Regions from separate parts of the Homo sapiens genome. Here region 1 is linked to region 2. A link means that fine-mapping ties the variant in region 2 to the expression of a gene that starts in the linked region. Tissue or cell type: prefrontal cortex. Region 2 holds a variant in brackets; the other region holds the start of a gene. All regions are shown on one strand. Distances are from middle to middle.

Region 1 (5,321 bases), 23 kb before region 2:
CACATATTATTTTTATGCAGGTGACTGAAAACCAGGGAATCAAACAGTGGGAAGTCCCAGAATAGGGGGACCAAAAGGCGGGATGGGGCATCCTAGCTGCTCTCCGGGTCCTGCCCATTGTTCTGAAGTCTGGAGAAGCAGCAGTTCTCTGATCCCGAAACCTAGCGGGTCCAGGGCTGGTGGAGCTGACGCCCACACCCCTGGGTCCGGGGCTGGCGCTGGGCTGGACCGGGGCTCATCTGCAGCCCTCACGCTCTCCTCGGTTCCGCAGCCATCTGGGCTTCCGAAGAGGTGATGGAGGCCGGCCCCAGGGGCGCCGCTGTGGGAAGGAGTCCGACCGACTGGCAGGACGCCTGCCACCGAGACCCCAAACTCTGGCGGCCCGCGCTTGCTCAGGCTGGAGCGCGTCGCGGCAGGCGCGTCCCACGGAGGTCGTGTGGCCAGCCCCAGGTCACACCAGCGAACCAGCACAGAGGCCAGGCCCAGAGCCCACCGCCACGCCACCGCCACAACGCCTCCCACCCCCGGGCCCTGCCGCCGTTCCCAGCAGAGGTGACGGACGCGCGGGGTGCGCCGAGGGCGTCCCGTCTGGGTCTGGGAGGCCCGCCCGCGCCGCGGAGCCTCGGAGGAAGGTCTGGAGCCGGGGCGGCCGTACCTTGCGTAGGCCACTGAAGGGAACGTCCAGAGGCAGTGAGAAGAGGTTCTCCACGAGCTGCTCGAAGGTCCGGGCCAGCGTGGCGCACTGCGCCTCGTCCAGCCGCAACCCCAGCAGGATGCGCGCGGCCATGCGGAAGGTGAGCGCTTTGGAGGCGTCGTAGACTGAGACCGGCCCGCCCGCCGCGCACCAGGAGCGCACCTCATGCCGCAGCGCCCCCTGCAGGCGCGGCACGTAGCGCTCCAGCGCGGCGCGGCTGAACACGCGCGCCAGGACCTGTGGGAGCGCGCGTGATCAGCGCTGGCGGCGGTCTGGCCTCATCTGCTTGGCGATTCCGGAGTAGCCAGAAGGCCAGTTCCGGTCCTTTCTCCCTCTTCCAAGCGGCCCAGACCTAAACTTCCTGGCTTTTGCTTTCGCCATTTCCCCCAGTTCTGCTCTGATGCACACAGTCCCTCCCAACCATCCAGGCTCCAGCTGCCATCTCCTCTAAGAAGTCTTCCCTGGCCCCTTTCTAGGTCTGAGTCTCCAGCGCTTCTGCTATCACAGCCACGGAAGATGGGAGATGAAAGAATCTTTTAGCGCAGTCCTAACTTTATAAACCGAAGCTGAAGGTAACGGACCCGCCCAAGGCCACCCGCTAGTTACCAGGGACCTTGGTCGGGTTCACAGTGTATCCAACACCGGGGCCCCGGCCTGGCCCATGGCAGATGCCGGGGACCGCGGATCCGACGTATCTACGGTCCATTCCCGTTTCCACTCACCTTGCGCCGCCGCCGGTGCGGCTCGCCGACCGCACCTAGCAGTGTGTGCGAGCCCAGCAGGATGTGCGCACTCTGCGGCCACTGGCTGCGCACCAGGCGGTGCTCGCCCAGCAGGATGGTGCGCACGTTCTCCGCGCCGCTCACGCGGATCACTGGCCTGCCCAGCAGGTGCGTCTTGAACACTGTCCCATAGCGCTCTCGGCGAGAACTGTGGAAGCGCGAGCCCTGCGGGCGAGGCGGAGGGTGGAGAGCTGGAACTTCTGGGCCTGGGCTGGGATCTGACCCAGACCTTCCAGCTGCCTTTTGATCACAACTTCCTGTCCCTGGCTGGCGCGTTTACAAAACAAGATCCCCAGTGGGCCTGGTATCTACTCTACGGGAATGTACATGCTCCTGTTCCTATTGGTGAGATGAGGAAACAGACTCAGAGTGAAGAAGTGAGGGCCCAAGGGCTCACAGCTGGGCCAAGCTCCAGGCTCCTTTTCTACCCTTGCAGGACGTGCTCCTCAGACCCCTTCCTAAAACCCCTTATGTTTACCCCCTGCGTTGTGTCTGGGAGTTGCTCTGGGGGGAATTCCAGTGACTTGAGGTCCCTTCGAGGGAACGGAGTATCTAGGTAAAGGCGAGAGTTGTGCGCGCTTCCCGGGGTCGTGGGCGATGGGCAGGGACTGGCTACAAATCCCATGGGCATTGAGACTGAGGAGGGTCCAGTGGGAGCCGGGGGAAGAAGGGACCGTATTAGCGCTCGGGGTCGAAGGACTGCTCACCTGAACTAACCAGTGCAGCGTTTCGCCGAAGAAGGGCCACCCCATGGAGCCCTTGGGCAGAGGCAGGGTGGAGGCCCGGTCCCGGCTCAGCATCCAGCGGAGGGTCCAGAGGTGCTGGGCCAGGCTGAGCAGCAGGCCCGCGCACAGGAGAGCAGTGCCCGCCGCCCCCAGCACTGACAGGCAGCTCAGCCCCCAAGGGAACATGATGAGCCCGCGGGGGCCAGGCCGCTCAGAGCGCAGGGAGAGCAGGGGACGCAAGAACCGGGGCGCGAGCAGTGCGCAGTGCTCACCTGTTCCGTCCGCAAAAGGCCTGGGGTTTGGGGGCAAAGCCCGAGATTTATAAGCTCAGGCCAGAACTCTGTTCTAAAAACAGACGGACGGTGAAAGACTGCAGTGACCGTGCGCCCTTAGGGAACGTGCCTTCCTCGAGGCCGGCACGCTCAGGACTTTTTCCTGGCTCCTGGGCCCAAATGCCAGTCCCTCTCGAAGGTGCCTGCTGCCTCGGGAACGCTCACTCCCGGCTCCGCGGGGCACCTCCCACCTCCTCCCGGGCTCAGCACCCTTTGGATAGAAGAAGGGAAGGAGGGCGAAAGAAGAGCAACTCACCAGTGTTGCCAACCTGGTCTGCAGACCCCCGCCCCACCTGTCCCTCCTCCAGTCGTTTAACCCTTCTTGGCCCACGCTGGACACGTTTATATAGATATTGGCTCCCCCCCTACGGACCGATCCCGGTTCACACAACGTGACGTGTCTTTGCATATTTAAAGCGCTCCACGCAGAGTGGTGATTGGAGGCGGTGGGCAGCGGCGCGCTCACGGAGGGGCTCTGAGTAGGGAGTGGCAGGCGCCGGGGCGGCTCGAGCTGGGCTGGGGGCTCGCCCCGCGAGCGTCCTCGGGCGGGGCCTGCGGGTTCGCGCCAGAGCTTCCCCGCTCTTCGCAGGCGCTCAGAAAGTGGGCGAACCCAACGCGCAGAACTGACCCGGGCTTGCGCCCCGCAGTGCTCCTGGCCCACCCCCGGCCGCTGGCTCCCTCTGCCGTCCCCGCCCTCGAGCTTCTAGGTGCCTTTCTCTCGCCACTCCAAGGTGAAAGAACTGGGCTTTTCTCTCCTTTGCTCCGACTATTTCAGGGAAACTGCAGTCGTCGACGCCTGCGTTGGCATCGCAAAAGCCCAGGAGGGATAGCGCAGCCGAGATTCTCCGACAGCTCCCCACCTCTCCCGGCTCTCTGATCTACCACGTCAGGTATCCTTCCAAAGATGGCAGTTCCACTACTGCCCTAGGCTTCATAAAGACGTCCTAAGCCTCCAGAAGCGGATACCCACGAGCACCTTTCCGGTCTCAAGGACCGAATTCATCCTTCCCTGCACATCCTTCCCTCCCTCCCCCGAGTTTGCCCGACGACTCTTGTCAATCTACATTGTTGCGTTTTGGGCTTTGTGCGTCCCATTCAAGGGTTCCAAATGCCTCAGGACTCACTCGTTCTTGTCCCTACAGTGCAACCTGGGGTGTGTGTGGAGGGGTGCAGGGTGTTTATATTATTGGTAAGAGTAAAGAGGTCCCACAGTGGTCTCCTCCAGGCAGTGCAAAGGCAGTATCTCTCTGAATCCCGGGACGTCTCAGCCAAAGCAGGGAAGACACCCCAAGTACGCTGGAAGGCTGGGTAAGGCGCGAAGGGCAGCCCCATTCCAGTCTTCAAAGAGAGCTAGCTGTTCACCGCTCCTCTCCTCCAGATTTCACCGTGCCTGAAGAACTACCATGCTTTTCATGTAATATTTTTAAAAACATTAAATACTTTGGATTAAGAGATGATCGAGAGAACAAGTGCGCATATGTATATATATGTGTGTGTGTGTGTGTGTGTATGTATATATACTGTTTTGGTGCCACTCCCATTCCAGTAACTAGGAAATAATATGCCTTTTCTCCAGGAAGCACTTGTTTTAAATCAGTAAGCTCTGAATAGACAAAATAGTAATGCATTTTCAACAACTTGCTCAATATTTTTAATATTTCATCACAAAATCCAGAGATGTACATATAATTCTTTACACTTATTTTACAGAATCAGGCATAGTTTCTTACAGGCCTAAATCCTGAAAAGGCAAAGGGAAGATTCAGCATAAATACAACAAAGGGAGAATAAAGACTGGATTTATATTGCCATTTGGACCACGGAAACATACACAAAGGAAAATGTACATTTGTTTTAGGTTTTCCAGAGTTCATTTGGTTTGGCTTGTTTCCACAATGAGGATAAAGTACTGAAATCTGCTATTTGAAGAAAGTAACCTGACCCCTGTGGTAACTTCTGTGTGCAGGAACCATCTACCCTCGCACAAGCTGCACCTGAAGTGGTTAGCCCCATTTAGTTCCTGTCCTCTCTTTTAACTGGAACCAAACCAAACCAAACAAATCCAGAATGGGGTCACCTACAAGCAATATAGTTAGAAATATTAACCCTGATGAACAGAAACAACACTGCATCTTTAGAAAATCCAAAACCTTTTGTTCATATTCAGAACGATTAAATTAAACCACCCAAGTAGAACAAATAATTCACATTCTTACTGAGTTAAATCAAGTTTGATTTCAGGCAGCTTTTAAGATTTGTCTATTTCCCCTTCAGAATTAGCAGAATTAGAAATTTTGGTCTGCTTAAATCACATTGAGGTGAAAATAAAAGCTAAAAGTCAGAAAATGGTAGTGAAATACTACCATATCAGACATGATTGAATTCCAAAGCCATATACTGATCAAAAAACAGATTATCATTCAAGTCTAAATAGAAAAAAATACTTATGAGTAGAGGCATATGTTTTTCAAATGTATTTGTAATCAATTTCATGTATAATTTGTGACAATTTATGTATTACACTTTTGCATTTTCCCCTAAAAGTGAAAAAATGGTCATTTTTTTCCATATATAAAATAGTATTCGATTATTTAAAAATCCATACAAATGATATTTATTACTATTTCTTGTTTAAGCCCTCATGTATCTTCTCTATTGTATTTTTGGATTCTGTAAACAAATTACTGTATCATGACCAATACTTGCTCAAGATCAACATTGAATCATGGATTTGGTGTCACTGAGTGCAAGCCATGTGAGGTCTACATGTGCTGGGACATACCATTCA
Region 2 (5,374 bases):
GCATACTGCCAGAGATCTGATGAAAGCGGGTCAGCTCACCTAGGTCAGGAGTATAGGGAGCAGTGTTCTAAGGACAGAAACCTTGGGGAAACCAACATTTAGGGGGCAGAAAAGGAGACCACAGAAAAGAAAGAGGAAGGATGTTAAGGGAGTACAGACTCAGAAGACGAGAGAATTTTAAAGAGAACATGATCCACATTACCAAATGCAGCAGAAAGAACCAATAGGATATGGGCTAAAAATGTCTACTGGCCTTCCCTGGTGACCTAAGTGAACACTATTTCAGCAGTGTGGCAAAGCAGATAGGAATGGATTGAGAAATGAATGAGAGATGTGAAAATAAGAATAATCAATTATAAACCACTCTTTTAAGGATGCAAATGAGGGAAGAGAAATTGGAAATAGCTAAAATGTTTTTAGGCTAAGAAAACGATAAAGCAGGCCGGGCGCAGTGGCTCACGCCTGTAATCCCAGCACTTTGGGAGGCCAAGGCAGGTGGATCACGAGGTCAGGAGATCAAGACCATCCTGGCTAACACAGTGAAACCCCGCCTCTACTAAAAATACAAAAAATTAGCCAGGGTGGTGGCAGGCACCTGTAGTCCCAGCTACTTGGGAGCCTGAGGCAGGAGAATGGCGTGAACCTGGGAGGCGGAGCTTGCAGTGAGCCGAGATCACGCCACTGCACTCCAGCCTGGGCAACAAGTGAGACTCCGTCTCAAAAAAAAGAAAAGGATAAAGCAGAGGAAAGGCAGATGAATAATGAAACAAAATGAAACAAAATCCCATACAAAAGATAGGGTCAAGGGCATAGGAAGATGAGAGCCTCATTAAAAAGGCTTCCTAACACCTGAGAATGAAGGACAGGAAGAATGGGTGTGGATATAGATAAGCTGACTGCAAAAGCAACAGTGAGAGGTTGATGGTGATAGAGATGGAAGACAAGAGGCTCAGAGGGGCTGGAGCTTTCACTCAAGAGTGGAGGAACAATGGTCTACAAATAGAAATGAGGAACCAGGGGAACACGAATCTCATTCACACGTGTAGCCATGAAAGAATGCATCCTGCCACTAGAGAGAGCTGCAGGGTTAGCAGTATCCTCCGAATTCTATGAAAAGGAGGTGAAGAAAGCATTCTGCCACACAGTTGAAGCAGTAGGGCCATTTACATTGCAATGAGGGTTTTCAGGTGGCATAGAATAAGTGGGCCAGAAGAAGTGAAAAGATGAGTAGACAAAACAAGGAGTGAATGAAACAGGAAAAAAGTTGGAAGGTGAGAAGGAGTAGAGTAAGGAAGTGGAAACTACTTAATTTCATTGAATAATCAAATTTTATTTTAATCTTCTCAGATGAAGGATGTGTGACTGAGAAGTAACAGAAACAGCAGTGTCTGACCAAGTCTCAGAGAGAAATGGTGGAGGCTGCCCTGAGATTTTCAAAAGGGAAGAGAAGCCTCTATTTGGATGGGGTGAATGTCCAGATATCTGGAGCAGCAGCAAGGGCACTTGCTGGGGAGAGCTTCTAAGAGGTTTGGAGCCAGGGGTTAGATTTTTGGAAGTCCCTTCCAATCCTCAAGTCTTAGGATTTTATGACCATGAAAATCACTGAATCACAATTTGAAGGTAATTGGTAGATGTTCTGACATTTACGAAAACACAAATGGGTTCAAAGAAAAGGAGAGAAATATACATTGCAAAATACTCTAGGGACTAAACAGTGACTTAACTATGAGTACTAAGCACTGCAATGCATATCTAAGAGGAAGTTTAGAGAATAATGCTATAAATGGTAGTCTCAAATAAAAAAAATACCTTCAGCAATATCAGCCTTTTGGTGTATATTAGTAAAAATTTTCATGACAACTATTATCCACTTGGCTCTGAAGAGGTCACTATTGACCTTTTGGTCTCCCAAAGTGCTGGGATTACAGGCATGAGCCACCATGACCGGCCTTTTTTAATAGATGGTATATATATATATACATATATAGGTGGAAGAATACATCCCTTTGAAGTGCTAGCAAAGTGTTGGCAGCGTTGAGTTCTCTGCACCATCTAAATTAGAAGATAGGTGGCTCTATGGGCCATTGATAACTTCCTAAAGTGCGGAGTGTGTACATATACTTACTTTTCCTTTGTATGTTTGTTTTCACTTTCTAATCAAATTTTGAGTTCTTCAAGGGTAGAGGTAATAGCTCTTCTCCCTTTAGGGTACTCAAAGCTTGTTGAACTGAGCTAAATTATATTTCATAGAACACTTTAAGAAGCAAAAGTTTAAGAACTGTGTCTCTTCTGGGACAAAACAGCCATGAAGGAAAAGCAGAGATTATACATGAAAAAGCTTCTAATTTAAACCACTGGAAAGCTCAATATTGTTGAATCAATATTGCTTGAGTCTAGAACTCTGTCATGTATATATACGTCTCATTCAAGTAGAGTGCTGGCTGTTCTCTATAAAAGTAGAAGTTGACTTTCAGGGAAATTACGTGTCATGTTCAAATTTATATGTAAAATAGG[A/T]TTAGAAGATAATTTCTTCAATTTATAAATTAACTGCTTAAACAATTAGACTAGGATGGCTTAATTTACACAAACATTTCTTTTTATTTGTATGTGTAGCCAATCTGCTTTCAAAAAGAATGCTTAGTAGGATTTTTTTAGAACTCTGTTGTCAGATTCACACTTGATATGGCAAATACAGTATAGGTTGTCTAGGGAATATTATTTTATGTAGCAAAAAGATCATAACTGAAAATAGGAATTGTGGTTATAATATCCACTAGTATGTAAAACAAACAGTGCATTTACTGTTTTTCTAACAAAGCATTTAAATATTTAAACTTCCCATAACTATCCTCCAAACTGAAAGAAACCTGTAACAAAAAAAAAAATTTCCAGTCAACAAAAAAAATTTATTAGAGAAAAATTTTTTTTTTTTTTTTTTTTTTTTTTGGAGACGGAGTCTCGCTCTGTAGCCCAGGCTGGAGTGCAGTGGCGCGATCTCGGCTCACTGCAAGCTCCGCCTCCCGGGTTCACGCCATTCTCCTGCCTCCACCTTCCGAGCAGCTGGGATTACGGGCGCCCGCCACCGCGCCCGGCTAATTTTTTTGTATTTTTAGTAGAGACGGGGTTTCACCGTGGTCTCGATCTCCGGACCTCGTGATCCGCCCACCTCGGCCTCCCAAAGTGCTGGGATCACAGGCGTGAGCCACCGCACCCGGCCCGAGAAAAATATTTCTTAAAAATGAGTAATAGCCAGGTGCGGTGGCTCACACCTGTAATCCCAGCACTTTGGGAGGCTAAGGCAGGCGGATCACCTGATGTCAGGAGTTTGAGACCAGCCTGGCCAAAATGGCGAAACCCTGCCTCTACTAAACATAGAAAAACTAGCTGGGTGTGGTGGCACGTGCCTGTAATCCCAGCTACTCAGGAGGCTGAGGCAGGAGAATCGCTTGAACCTGAGAGGCAGAGGCTGCAGTGAACTGAGATCACACCACTATGCTCCAGCCTAGGCAACAAGAGAGAAACTCCATTTCAAAAAAAAAAAATGGAGAATAATAGGGCTGGATGTAGTGGCCCTATTAATCCCCGCACATTGGGTGGCTGAGGTGGATCGCTTGAGGCCAGGAGTTTCAGAACAATCTGGGCAACATGGCAAGACTCTGCCTCTACAAAAAATACAAAAATCAGCTGGGTGTGGTGGCATGCACCTGTAGTCCCAGCTACTCCGGAGGCTGAGGTGGATCACCTGAGCCTGGGGAGGTTGAGGCTGCAATGTGCCATGATCACACCACTGCACTCCAGCCTGGGCGACAGAGAAACCCTGTCTCCAAAAAAAAAAAAAAAAAGTAGAAGAAGAAAGGAAGTTTGGCAAAAATGTGAATTAATTTTGAGAGAAAAGATATAGCTCCTTGTTGAGTAATGCCAATGTTAATAGTTAATCATTAGTTTACTGCATATATGATATTTATCAAAGGCCAGAATATCACTACCCTCCATAGTTGACAAACTGTTCTAAAAATTTTAACCTATCCCTTTCAGTGAAAAAAAGAGCAGGAATATTGATAATTGAAAACAGGTAAATCTGGGACTGTCTCTTTTTACATTATGCACAGTCTGTGGAAACAAAGATTTAATCCTTGTGTAACTCACTGAAAATTTACCTTAAAATGTATCATATTACAATAATGCTTATATTGTAAATAAGAAATATTCTGTATTTGCCCAACTGCAAACTTAAATGACTTAATTTTTTCCATAAATCTGTTAGCTTTATTTATTGTCATATTGCCAAGTTACGTATCTCTTTTAAAAATAATTCTGATTTATATACTTTTTTGGAGAGCTTTTTCAGCAGTACCCAGTAATTCCACTTCTAAAGGCCTACAGAAATACTTACACAAGTGCTCGATATATATGTATAAATATATTAATGGCAGCTTCATTAATAGATAGACAAAACTAAAGAATCCATAATGTCCAACAAATGAGGACTTGTTTAATAAATTATGGTATATGTACACTATAGACAGTACAAAGAAATTAAAAAGAATGAAACATCCATATTTACCAATATGAAAGCATATGTTGCATGAAAAATGTGAATTATAACATACCTCCCCCAAAAAGGAAATAACTACATGTGTGCATGTAAGTATCTGCATGTATACATGTTCGAATGTACACTACAAAGGTCTGGAGGGAAATAATGACTGTGAAAGACTGAAGAGGAGGGGAAAATAAGAGCTTTCTCTTTTTTTTCTTTTTTTTTTTTGAGATGGAGTTTCACTCTTGTTGCCCAGGCTGGAGTGCAATGGTGTGATCTCGGCTCACTGCAACCTCCACCTCCCAGGCTCAAGTGATTCTCCTGCCTCTGCCTCCCAAGTAGCTGACATTACAGGCATGCGCCATCATGCCTAATGTTTTGTATTTTTAGTAGAGATGGGGTTTCTCCATGTTGGTCAGGCTGGTCTTGAACTCCCGACCTTCGGTGATCTGCCCGCCTCGGCCTCCCAAAGTGCTGGGATTACAGGTGTGAGCCACCGTGCCCGGCCTGAGAGCTTTCTTTTTAGGTTTGATTTTAGTTTAACAGTGAACATACAATATCTACTTCCTGTGTTTTCGTTTCTGTTTTTCTGGAGACAGAGTCTTGATCTGTCATCCAGGCTGGAGTGCAGTGGCAAGATCTTGGCTCACTGCAACCTCCGCAGGCCAGGTTCAAGCAATTCTCATGTCTCAACCTCCCAACTAGTGGGGATTACAAGCATATGCCAATGCACTCGTCTAATTTTTGTATTTTTAGTAGAGACGGGGTTTTGCCATGTTGGCCAAGCTGGTCTAGAGCTCCTGGCCTCAAGTGATCCGCTCACCTCAACCTCCC

Direction of the effects. Positions count from the first base shown, and alleles are read on the strand shown. Sizes are in standard deviations (SD) of each study's normalised expression.
For the expression in prefrontal cortex of the gene that starts at base 2,853 in region 1, T is the low allele of the variant in region 2 and A is the other (moderate effect, 0.49 SD a copy in BrainSeq).

The links. PIP is the estimated chance that this variant, and not a neighbour inherited with it, causes the effect. A credible set is the group of variants that fine-mapping cannot tell apart.
Region 1: it holds the start of CYP26C1, and the variant in region 2 is the best candidate, but not a certain one, in a credible set for the expression of CYP26C1 in prefrontal cortex (BrainSeq, PIP 0.58).

What each region holds. Positions count from the first base shown.
Region 1 is chr10:93,058,330-93,063,650 of GRCh38, reverse strand. CYP26C1 (cytochrome P450 family 26 subfamily C member 1) reads right to left here and starts at 2,853. Exons shown (of 6, transcript NM_183374.3): 1 at 2,184-2,853; 2 at 1,417-1,641; 3 at 656-931. The coding sequence starts at 2,387. EXOC6 (exocyst complex component 6) reads right to left here. Exons shown (of 22, transcript NM_019053.6): 22 at 4,161-5,321. The coding sequence ends at 5,296. RefSeq lists enhancers at 673-842, 853-972, 1,926-2,835.
Region 2 is chr10:93,035,613-93,040,986 of GRCh38, reverse strand. The region is part of intron 20 of EXOC6 (exocyst complex component 6); the gene reads right to left. Among named protein-coding and RNA genes, the nearest start is that of CYP26C1, 22 kb to the left of the region's middle. RefSeq lists a silencer at 921-1,215. The variant A/T (reference allele first, on the strand shown) is at 2,515.